Regions from separate parts of the Homo sapiens genome. Here region 1 is linked to region 2. The links come from fine-mapping of genetic effects on gene expression. A gene starts in region 2. The other region holds a variant in brackets. All regions are shown on one strand. Distances are from middle to middle.

The links.
Region 1: its variant is fine-mapped to the expression of PRMT5 in whole blood (INTERVAL, PIP 0.91).

Annotation. Positions count from the first base shown.
Region 1 is chr14:22,952,871-22,958,201 of GRCh38, forward strand. HAUS4 (HAUS augmin like complex subunit 4) reads right to left here and starts at 4,220. Exons shown (of 10, transcript NM_001166269.2): 1 at 4,046-4,220; 2 at 2,230-2,306. The coding sequence starts at 2,284. It overlaps PRMT5-DT (PRMT5 divergent transcript), which reads left to right. Exons shown (of 3, transcript NR_110002.1): 3 at 1,461-1,822. MIR4707 (microRNA 4707) reads right to left here and starts at 4,159; the gene lies at 4,080-4,159. RefSeq lists enhancers at 3,912-4,041, 4,424-5,003, 5,004-5,331. The variant A/G (reference allele first, on the strand shown) is at 2,107.
Region 2 is chr14:22,926,441-22,931,808 of GRCh38, forward strand. PRMT5 (protein arginine methyltransferase 5) reads right to left here and starts at 2,936. Exons shown (of 17, transcript NM_006109.5): 1 at 2,812-2,936; 2 at 2,057-2,175; 3 at 1,686-1,771; 4 at 1,086-1,220; 5 at 262-374; 6 at 66-115. The coding sequence starts at 2,921. It overlaps PRMT5-DT (PRMT5 divergent transcript), which reads left to right and starts at 3,169. Exons shown (of 3, transcript NR_110002.1): 1 at 3,169-3,312. It overlaps TRR-ACG1-3 (tRNA-Arg (anticodon ACG) 1-3), which reads left to right and starts at 3,261; the gene lies at 3,261-3,333. It overlaps LOC124903285 (a long non-coding RNA gene), which reads left to right. Exons shown (of 2, transcript XR_007064073.1): 2 at 21-462. RefSeq lists enhancers at 1-721, 2,780-2,889 and a silencer at 3,300-3,389.

The sequences.
Region 1 (5,331 bases), 26 kb after region 2:
TATTATATACAAGGATATTAAGGGGGAATAAGTAATAAACTAAGATCTTAGGAAACGGAAATGCAGTTGGTACATATTAGACAAATAGAATAAAAATTAAGGGACCGTTAGTAGGAATCACAATACACAAAATGCCTCATTCATCCAAAATTAATAGAGTTCTTGAAGTAGGGGGAAAGAAACACAACACGTGAAGTTCCAACTTTGGATGTGATATGTAGTCGCATAAACAAGACTAACAGAATACACTTAGAGTAAGTTAAACGTTCAACTAACCAATTTTTTTTTTTTCTTTTTGAGACAGGGTCTCACTCTGTCACCCAGGCTGGAGTGCAGTGGCACAATCACAGCTCACTGCAGCCTTAACCTCCCCAGATCAAGCGATCCTTCCACCTCCTGAGGAGCTGAGACTACAAGGCAAACCACGATGACTGGCTAATTTTTTTTTTACAGACAGGGTCTCACTACATTGCCCAGGCTGGTCTTGAACTCTTGGGCTCAAGTGATCCTCCCACCTTGGCATCTCAAAGTGCTGGGATTACAGGTGTGAGTCACCACAGCTGGCCCAAATTCTTTTTTATTTTTTTCTTTTGAGATGGAGTTTTGCTCTTGTTGCCCAGGCTGGAGTGCAATGGCGTGATCTCGGCTCACTGCAATTTCCACCTCCCGGGTTCAAACGATTCTCCTGCCTCAGCCTCCCGAGTAGCTGGGATTACAGGCATGCGCCACCATGCCTGGCTAATATTTTTTGTTTTTTGTTTTTTTTTTGAGACGGAGTCTCACTCTGTCACCCAGGCTGGAGTGCAATGGCACGATCTCGGCTCACTGCAAGCTCCACCTCCCAGATTCACGCCATTCTCCTGCCTTAGCCTCCCAAGTAGCTGGGACTACAGGCACCCGCCACCACGCCCAGCTATTTTTTTTTTTTTTTTTGTATTTTTAGTAGAGGCGGGGTTTCACCTTGTTAGCCAGGATGGTCTCAATCTCCTGACCTCGTGATCTGCCCGCCTCGGCTTCCCAAAGTGCTAGGATTACAGGTGTGAGCCACCGTGCCCAGCCTCTAATTTTTGTATTTTTAGTAGGGACGGGGTTTCTCCATGTTGGTCAGGCTGGTCTCAAACTCCCAACCTCAGGTGATCCGCCCGCCTTGGCCTCCCAAAGTGCTGGGATTACAGGCATGAGCCACCACACCTGGCCAGCTGGCCCAAATACTTATAATTGTCAGTAGAGTTGAGTAACCCATGTAGATACAAAACAGCACAGGCATGAGAAAAAAGTGTAAGAAATTGAGATCCTCTGGTTTTTCCATATGCTCAAGGAGCTTTCTTTCCATTTCTTTTTCCATATGCTCTCTGTTGGGGTCTTTTACCTCTACTTGCCAAAACACCCAAATTTTCATTCTTTGGAACATTATACCCAAAGTCTTTTTGGGAAATAAGAAATCTCTCTTTTTCCCTAAGGTACTGAAGCATCCAATATGGAAATAGTCAAGATATAGAAAATGCAAGCTCTTGAAGGATTCAAGATATAGAAAGGATCTGAGATATGGAAAGAACTCAGGATATAGAAGGATCTGAAATTTTGGAGACTAAGATATGAGAATATTTAAGACACAGGTAGGAAGGACACCTTCAAGGAATTTGCTGGCTACCCTTATTTTTATAATATGCTTGCTAACATCAGCATGGGAGCATCTTGAGTTTTTAGCCTACTACACAAGCAGATATTGAACCAACATTAACAGGAATTAGTGTAGTCTGTTTTCCAATAAGAGAGTGTTCAAGGATCTTCATGTATTCCAGTTTCCTCAGAAACACATGCTTCTGTGAGGAAAACCATACTGGGGAAACTTATAAATCCTTTTTTTTTTTTTTTTTTGGAGTCTTGCTCTGTTGCCCAGGCTGGAGTACAGTGGCACGATCTCAGCTCACTGCAAGCTCCGCCTCCCAGGTTCACACCATTCTCCTGCCTCAGCCTCTGGAGTAGCTGGGACTACAGGTACCCACCACCACGCCCAGCTAATTTTTCGTATTTTTAGTAGAGACAGGGTTTCACCGTGTTAGCCAGGATGGTCTCGATCTCCTGACCTCGTGATCCACCCACCTC[A/G]GCCTCCCAAAGTGCTGGGATTACAGGTGTGAGCCAATAAATGCTTTTTACTAGAAAAGGCAAGAACCTGGATAAGACCTCTCTGGATAAATCATCAAACCTTTTGCAAGTGGCTACTCTTACCTTGTTGAAGTATTTCCATCCCTTCTCCAGGTGAGCAGAAATCCCCGGATGCCATTTGATTTTCTTGGGATTCTAATCTGTGGAACCAAGAAGTGAAAGAAAACAAAAAGATGAATAAACAGCTGGCTGCTCCAAGGACACTACCTTATGTTCAAATTTCTGCTGTCCACAAGCTGGAAAGGAACCTCAAGGATGACTTTTACAGAGGGCCTATACCACACATCCTGGGTCCCAAGCTCTTACACAAGCTTTATGGACAAACAGATTTACAAGTGCCAAAACATGTCACATTCTAAGCACACATGTGTTTCCACTTGCTCCAAGCTGTCCAAAAGGAGCATCCTAAAAAGAGAACTTTCCAATTCACTGAGTCTAAACAAGAGGATTCTCCACCACCACCACCATTATGCCAAAGTTAAAACTGAGCTGCAGCTTCCCAGTTATGAGTGAACTGGGGGAAAAGGGAAAAAAATCAAAGTCTACTTTTTCCCCCCAAATAACTCAGCTATCAAATTCCATAATAGTTTTTTTGTGCTTCTTTTTTTGTCTAAGATCTGTTGGTAGTTTTTTTTTTTTTTATCATTAACTCTAGAATCATCCTTCAGGAATGACAAATCATTCCACACTTGAACAACTGGTTTTCACATAACAGCCTAAGAAAAGAGCACCTGGAGGAAACAGCGTGACAAGAAGACTGACAGTGAGGTCAGTGGCAAAAGAGTAATGCAAAGGTGTAATGTGGCTACAACGAGAACGTGAGCTGTGGGTGTTTTGCCAGAACATGGAGTGCGCTGAAAGGAATGACACCAACACAGGGGCAGTAAAGATGGGCACAGTTTGACCTCAGGAGACAAAAATTTTCCCTTGACATTACTTTTCATGTTTTTGCTCTGCCCCTCCTCTCTGCAAGGTATCAAACTCCAAAGGGCAACTGAGCCTCCCAAAGCTGAACAGGCATTGAAGGTTATTATGATTTAACGCTTCATGTTTATAGAACATTTGGTTTACTCGATCGTTTTATGAGTAACATCAAAGTAACTACTCATTTGTTTTCTAACATGGTCTAGAGGGGGACGCAGCTGAGGAGGCAGAATGCTGGGACTTAATTTGCAGCTCGGCCGGCCGTTGCTTCTGAGAACTTAAGGAAAATGCTTTTTTCTGTGCCAAACTTTTCCCACCTGCAAAACTGAGATAACGATTCCTGCCTTGGATGAGACATTAAGAATTAATAACACAATCGACTTGTCAACAAAAGCCACTACTTAGTTAAGTTCAGTGTTTTAACAATTCTGTTTATCGTTGATCTATGACTGCAAATAAAAAGTTTTGCAGGCAAATTTCGCACTTGGAAATGAAGACCAACCCAAATTCCAAAAAGCTAGCTGTTCGTCCCCCCCTAGGGTAAGTGTCCCCTTGCGTTTTTTAGGGTGCCTTTCTTTACCCTTCTTAAAGGTTACAGGGCGTGAACGGCAATCAGGCTCGATTCTCCACCCTCTGCACTCAGACGTGTTAAAACGCTGCTACAGGGACCCAAGCATTTAAATGTTCTGACTCAGGCGTCTTTTAAATTCTTAGAGCTGTCTTTACACGCTGCACTGAACGTTAAATTGATTTTACAGGTTATTTTCACAAGATATGACCCTTACAGGGCCCGAGATGAATCAAAATGCAGAACGGGCTCTCCGGCGCCTACTTCCCTTCTGTCTGGGCGGCCAAGGATTCCCAAGAGCGACGACGGTCTCCGGCCACTGGCCGGAATGACTCTCCCAGAGCTCCTCTTCCCCGAAGCTCCGCCCGCCGACCCTCTAAAGCAAACCTGCACACCCTGGGGCAGCTGAAGCTCTCAAGGCGGTGCCGAGAACCTCGGCTGGGGCGGGCTGGCCAGCAGCGTCTACACCCCAGAACCCGCCCGCGCCGGGGCTCCGGAACCTCTCGTTCGGGCCGGGCGCAGGGGCTGGGGGAAGCGAGGCCCGGAAAGACCAAGCTGAAAGGCCCGGGAAGGGGAAGGAGCCGAAAGTGCACTAGAGGCCGCGACGAAGGAGGTGGAGGCGGGGCCACACTCGAGGCGGGAACGGCAGGCCCCGCCCCTCGACGGGTGCGCGCTGGGTTCCCAACGCCCTGGGTTCGCATGCTCGGGTGGTGGAACCCGGACTGGGAAACAGGATGGTCTCGGAAAGGCTTTTTTGCCCCTTCTCATTAGTGCCTCCCCAGTGAAGGGCAGATGCTGAGAAAATGGTGGTAATTGCTAACATTTATTGAGGGCCTACGATGAGTCAGGCACTACGCCAAGCATTTTGCTTGCCTTGCCTCGTTTTTTTTTTGAGACGGAGTCTCGCTCTGTCGCCCAGGCTGGGGTGCAGTGGCGCAATATCGGCTCGCTGCAAGCTCCGCCTCCCGGGTTCAAGCAATTCTCTGCCTCAGCCTCACGAGTAGCTGGGATTACAGGTGCCCGCCACCACGCCCGGCTAATTGTTGTATTTTTAGTAGAGACGGGGTTTCACCGTGTTAGCCAGGATGATCTGGATCTCCTGACCTCGTGATCCACCCGCCTCGGCCTCCCAAAGTGCTGGGATTACAGGCGTGAGCTACCGCCCTCGGCCAGGCCTCGTTTAGTTCTTAAAGCGTCCTGTGAGAAAGTCACCATTATACTCATTTTACAGAGGGGGAGAACTGAGGCACAAAGGGTTAAGTTCGAGGTCGCCATTTGGGGGGTCTAAACCTGTCCCAATAGCTCTCGGAAGGAACCTTCCCAGACCTGCCACCCAAGCCGCGTCCTGCGAGTCTCCTCACTAAGGCCTGGCTCTGAGGCGCTGCCGCCCAGCCCAGCCCAGCCCAGCCCAGCCCATGCCGGGCACCATACAGTGCTTCCTCAGGGTCACCTTCCTCTCGAATTCCCACCACAGACTCCCTATTAGCGCGCATTCCTCATTCGCCTGTTTTGTTTGTTTGTTTGTTTGTTTTCTTGGGGGTACGGAGTTTCGCACTTGTTGCCCAGGCTGGAGCGCAGTGGCACGATCTCGGCTCACCGCAACCTCCACCTCCCAGGTTCAAGCGATTCTCCTGCCCTAGCCTCCTGAGTAGCTGGGATTACCCGCACGAGCC
Region 2 (5,368 bases):
TTCCTGATTCTTATTCACAGGAGGTAAGAGAAGCCACACCCATCCCAGGATTCTCATGGACTCACCCACTGCAATCCTCTTACTATAGTCACACAAAGTCCGGAAGTTGTGCCACCTGTTCAGTCAAATACAGAAAAGTACAGTAAACTAGATATGGCCGACCAATCACCACAGCTCAAGGAGACCTCCCTACAGGTTGCACCCTGTACTTCCCCTCACCCTATCCCTTGCACCCTGGTACAGCAGCAAAGGGAGACATACCACATCCACGTTTTCTCCTCCCCACTGTACTCCTCTGTGTGTGTAGTTGGTGCATTCTCAATTATATCATCTCTCAGGTCCTCTGGTGCCACCAAGGGTACCCGCATCCAGAACTGCACATGAACAGTCACCCTTTTAGAACTCTCTTTTGAACTCATTGGGTCCAGAAAGTTTCCCTCAATAAAAAAAACTTCATCCAGACCTCGTTAATCCCTTTATATGCTTTTCCCAATTTGTAATTTTGTAAGTGAACATGTACCTTATATATAGATCCTTATGTAAATATCTGCCTTGTCTTACGTAAGTTTCCAAAATAATTACATTTACATGTTTTGAAACTCTCTTCATACCACTTTTAGATGGAGAGGTGCGCAATACTGACCTTTTTTTTTTTTTTTTTTTGAGACAAGGTCTGGCTCTGTCACCCAGGCTGGAGTGCAGTGGTGCAATCTCAGCTAACTGCAACCTCCGCCTCACAGGTTCAAGTCATCCTCCCACCTCAGCTTCCCAAGTAGCTGGGACTACAGGCGTGTGACACCCCACCTAGCTAATTTGTGTTTTTTTGTTTTTGTTTTGGTTTTGGTTTTTTATACAGACAGGATTTCACCACGCTGCCCAAGCTGGTCTCGAACTCCTGAGCTCAGTGATCTGCCCACCTCAGCCTCCCAAAGTGCTGGGATTACAGGCATCACCCACTGTGCCCGCCAATACTGATACTTCAATTCTGCCAAACACACCCTTCACTGAATGGCTAGGCACAAGAAGGTACTTAGCACAATCTGACTACTATGATATGCAGCAGGAAAGGAGCCCCTCAGCTATACCATGGAAGAGTGATGGCCAGTGTGGATGTGGTTGGTCAAAACTCTGGCCAGGTTGGTGTTATCTTCCTGATTAAGGGGCAGCAGGAAAGCTGGAAGACCCAAATATGCACCAAAATTCAGCTCCTGTAACATGGCCTGGAACGGAGATGAAGAGGAAAAGTTTGAGCTAACAAGCAAACAGCTTTTTTTTTTTTTTTTTTGAGACAAAGTCTCACTCTGTCACCCAGGCTGGAGTGCAGTGGCACAGTCTCCACTCACTGCAGCCTTGACCTTCCCAAGCTCAACTGATCCTCCCTCCTCAGCCTCCTGAGTAGCTGGGACCACAGGCATGCACCACCATGCCTGGCTAATTTTTGTATATTTTATAGAGATGGGGTTTCACTACGCTGCCCAGGCTGGTCTCGAAATCCCGAGCTCCAGTGATCCTACAGCCTCAGCCTCCCAAAGTGCTAGGATTATAGGTGTGCACCACAGCACCCAGCCTAATAGCTTTAATTTCATTCTATCAGTTAATTTACCAAGTTATTGGGGATGGGAGGGGACCACTCTCCCCACCCAGCTTGGTTAGAAAAATCCAGCAGAGAAGTCAAACAGTCTTACCGCCTCGGAGTTCCTGCGAATCTTCTCCACTTTTGAGTCTGGACGAATCCATGGAGAAAGCTTTCCCACAATTAGCGTATTCCAGTCTGCACTCCCCCACCCAAGAAAGACAAATACTGAATAAGGTTCAGCACTTTACTTGTTCAATTTTTAGTTTTGGGAATCAAGAGTAGAAATGAGAGACAAAGGTTTTTTCTACATAGACATGGGATAGCCTGATGCAGAATAGAGAAGCAAGGAGAAAACAAGTTATCTATATCCCAGGGACTAACAAATATATCCAAGTCAGAAAAGGAGGAGAATGAGGGCCCCGATAAAGCAGAAGTTGTTATTGCCTCTAATAATTAAGGGGCATATGGGATGGTCCCTACCCCTTCCTGACAGCAGTAGGTCTGATCGTGTCTGGGGACCGGGCCGATTCTTAGCAGGTTCCTGAATGAACTCCCTCTTGAAACGCGGATGGAAGACAGGCATGCAGAGGAAATCAAACCTACAACCGCGACAGACCCAGAATCATGTAAAGACAGCAGCAGTGCCAGAGAGCCAAGCAACTGGATTTAGGCTATCTTGATTTTGCACAGCCCTTTCAGCTGCCATCAGTTCAGCCTACTAGGCTGCTGAGTTCAGACCACCTTGGGGGATATCAACTCTGCTGTACTGTGCCTCAATTTCTCCCTAAAACACAGCCATGGGACATATGAGTAAGGAGAAAATGATGGATATCCACAAGTAGAATTTTTTTCTCCTCAGGTGTCAGTATGTTTCCAAGACCATCACATCCAGATTTGCCCCAGTTCTGCCCATGCCTCCCCCGTCAAAATTAGCCTCTTCTCTCCCTTGCCCCCTAACACCTCCTCCCACTCCCAGACAATAATCGCGACCTCCAGGGCCCTTTAGAGTTTACCCAACAACTCTCCCAACTTTGGGACTCAGTGACCACAGGCCTCCCACAAGTTATTTTCCTCACGTTACTGGGTCCGAGGCTCCTCCCCTCCAAAGAGTAATAGTCTCTCCCCTCCTCATCCTAGCCGACCCCCTCACCCCTGCTTCTCCGGGATGACTAGTCTGCCCTTCTCCGTCCCCGAGTTCGGACCCCGCATTCCGCTCGTGGAGGTCCGGCCCTCACCCCTGCTTGGCCACAGCCCCTAGTGTGTCAGCTATTTCGGGGACGCAATTCAGGTCCCTCCCGCTGGACACGCGGCTCCCACCAGCACCCCCGACCGCCATCGCCGCCATCTTTCTCCTCGCGCTGTCCACGCCGGGATTCCTTGATACTAGTAGCCAATCACAAAGTCAAACTAGTGCCCCAGAAGGCGGGACGAGTCGCCTTAACAACCAGAGCGTCTGCCACAGCTCCCGAACAGGAGGGATGGGGAGTGGCTTTTCCTGCCAATCCGCGGGCTGCACAGTGGCGTACGGCATGGATCCACCAATCTCAGGGTCTGGTTCCTGACGAACTTCAATCTCCCAGAATGCTTAGTCTATCTGAAGAACGCCGTTGAGAGACTACACCGCCCATGAAACCCTGCAGTATAACCTTGAAGTACCATCACGGAGAGAAACAGTGCCATCTCAGGGCCAGTGGCGCAATGGATAACGCGTCTGACTACGGATCAGAAGATTCCAGGTTCGACTCCTGGCTGGCTCGGTGGGGTTCCTCGCAGCTTCGCTGCGTGAGCATTTTGTAATTTTCCTTTCCTTTCGCAGCTTGATGCTTCTTTATTATCTTCACGCTTTCATTATCAGATCCTGAGTCGGTTGGGTTATGCAGCCATGTAATGTCAGCTTTTCCCGTAACTACCCTCAAAAGTGTTTTTCTTGTGTCATTATTTACGTCCATATGAACACTGAGAAAACTGGGTTAATGGCTGGTGCTATTAAAATGAGCTTTGTCACCTTACTATGTTACATATTAAAATAAACTGCTAACTCAGCTACTACTTCCTAGTGATTCTAGGAAGTAGTGTTTTGTGTTTCAAACACAAAAGGTGTAAATAAACGCCTAAACACACACACACACCTCAAGATAGAGAAAAGGAATTCATTAATTACAGTGGGCAGCAGTCATGAAATTGGCTGGCATGGAGGCCAGAGAGAATCTACATTTTCTCATGTCATTAGCTGCTAGAGATGGAAAGGAAGGAAGCAAGGAAAGACATAGGGAGGTAAATGGGAACTCCAGAAGGCAGGGGGCCCACTGGTGTTGAGGGCTCGGCAGCAAGGATGGAGAGGAGAACACGGTACAAGAGACCCCACGCAGGCGCCGCTGGCAGAACTTAGGGACCGACTGGCAAGGAGTCCTGAGAAAGCAAAGTAGGGGGTGATGCCTAGGATTCTGTCCATGCAGTGAGCAAGAAATGCGGAAAGAGGGTTTGGGAAATCAGGGTTTGGGTTTGGTCATGCTGAATTGAACGTCTAGGGGGCGCTGTGTAATAGAAAGTTGGATGGAGGTCGCTAGAAGAAAAGAACTGAGGCCATGCGACTGAGATCACCATAGCTCGTTGGGGACAGAGCCATAGGAAATACGAAAAGGGTGTGGGGTAGGATAAGTTCTGGGGAACCCTGGGTGCAATGCAAGTGCCCCAAAAGAATGAAAGCCGGAAAACCGGCCGGGCGCGGTGGCTCACGCCTGTAATCCCAGCACTTTGGAAAGCGGAGGCGGGTGGATCTCCTGAGGTCAGGAGTTCGAGACCAGCCTGGCCAACATGAAAACTCCCCGTCTCTCCTAAACGTGGTAGCAGGCGCCTGTAATCCCAGCTACTCGGCCAGCTACTCGGGAGGCTGAAGCAGGAGAACTGCTTGAACCCGGCAGGCGGAGGTTGCAGTGAGCCAAGATCACGCCACTGCACTCCAGCCTGGGCAACAAGAGCAAAATAATGTCGGGGCAGGGGGAGGAGGAAAGGAAAGTCGGAAAAACCAAAGCATTTAAAAAATGCACCATGAAGGCCAGGCTGGGCACAGTGGCTCACGCCCGTAATCCCAGCACTTTGGGAGGGCGAGGCGGGCGGATCACCTGAGGTCGGGAGTTCGAGACTACCCTGACCAACACGGAGAAACCCATCTCTACTAAAAATACAAAATTTAGCCAGACGTGGTGGCGTGCGCCTGTAATACCAGCTACTCAGGAGGCTGAGGCAGGAGAATCACTTGAACCTAGGAGGTGGGAGGTGGAGGCTGCAGTGAGCCTAGATCATGCCGTTGTACTCCAGCCTGGGCAACAGCAAGACTCCGTCTCAAAAAAAAAAACAAAAAAAAACCCCAGCACTTTGGGAGGCCGAAGCAGGCGGATCACGAGGTCAGGTGATCAAGACCATCTTGGCTAACACAGTGAAACCCCGTCTCTACTAAAAAAAATACAAAAAAAATTAGCCGGGTGTGGTGGCAGGCGCCTGTAGTCCCAGCTACTCAGGAGGCTGAGGCAGGAGAATGACCCAGGAGGCAGAGCTTGCAGTGAGCCGAGATCGTGCCACTGCACTCCAGCCTGGGCGAGAGAGCGAGACTCCATCTCAAAAAAAAAAAAAAAAAAAGCTCCATGAAGCCTGAAGTGATTGGAGGTGCTTTTGTCCACTATTATCGTTACTATTTTTCTGCTCCAGGATCCCATGCAGCATATCATATGACATTTAGTTGCTATGTCTCCTTAGGCTCCTCTTGGCTATGACAGTTTCTCAGATGTTCCTTGT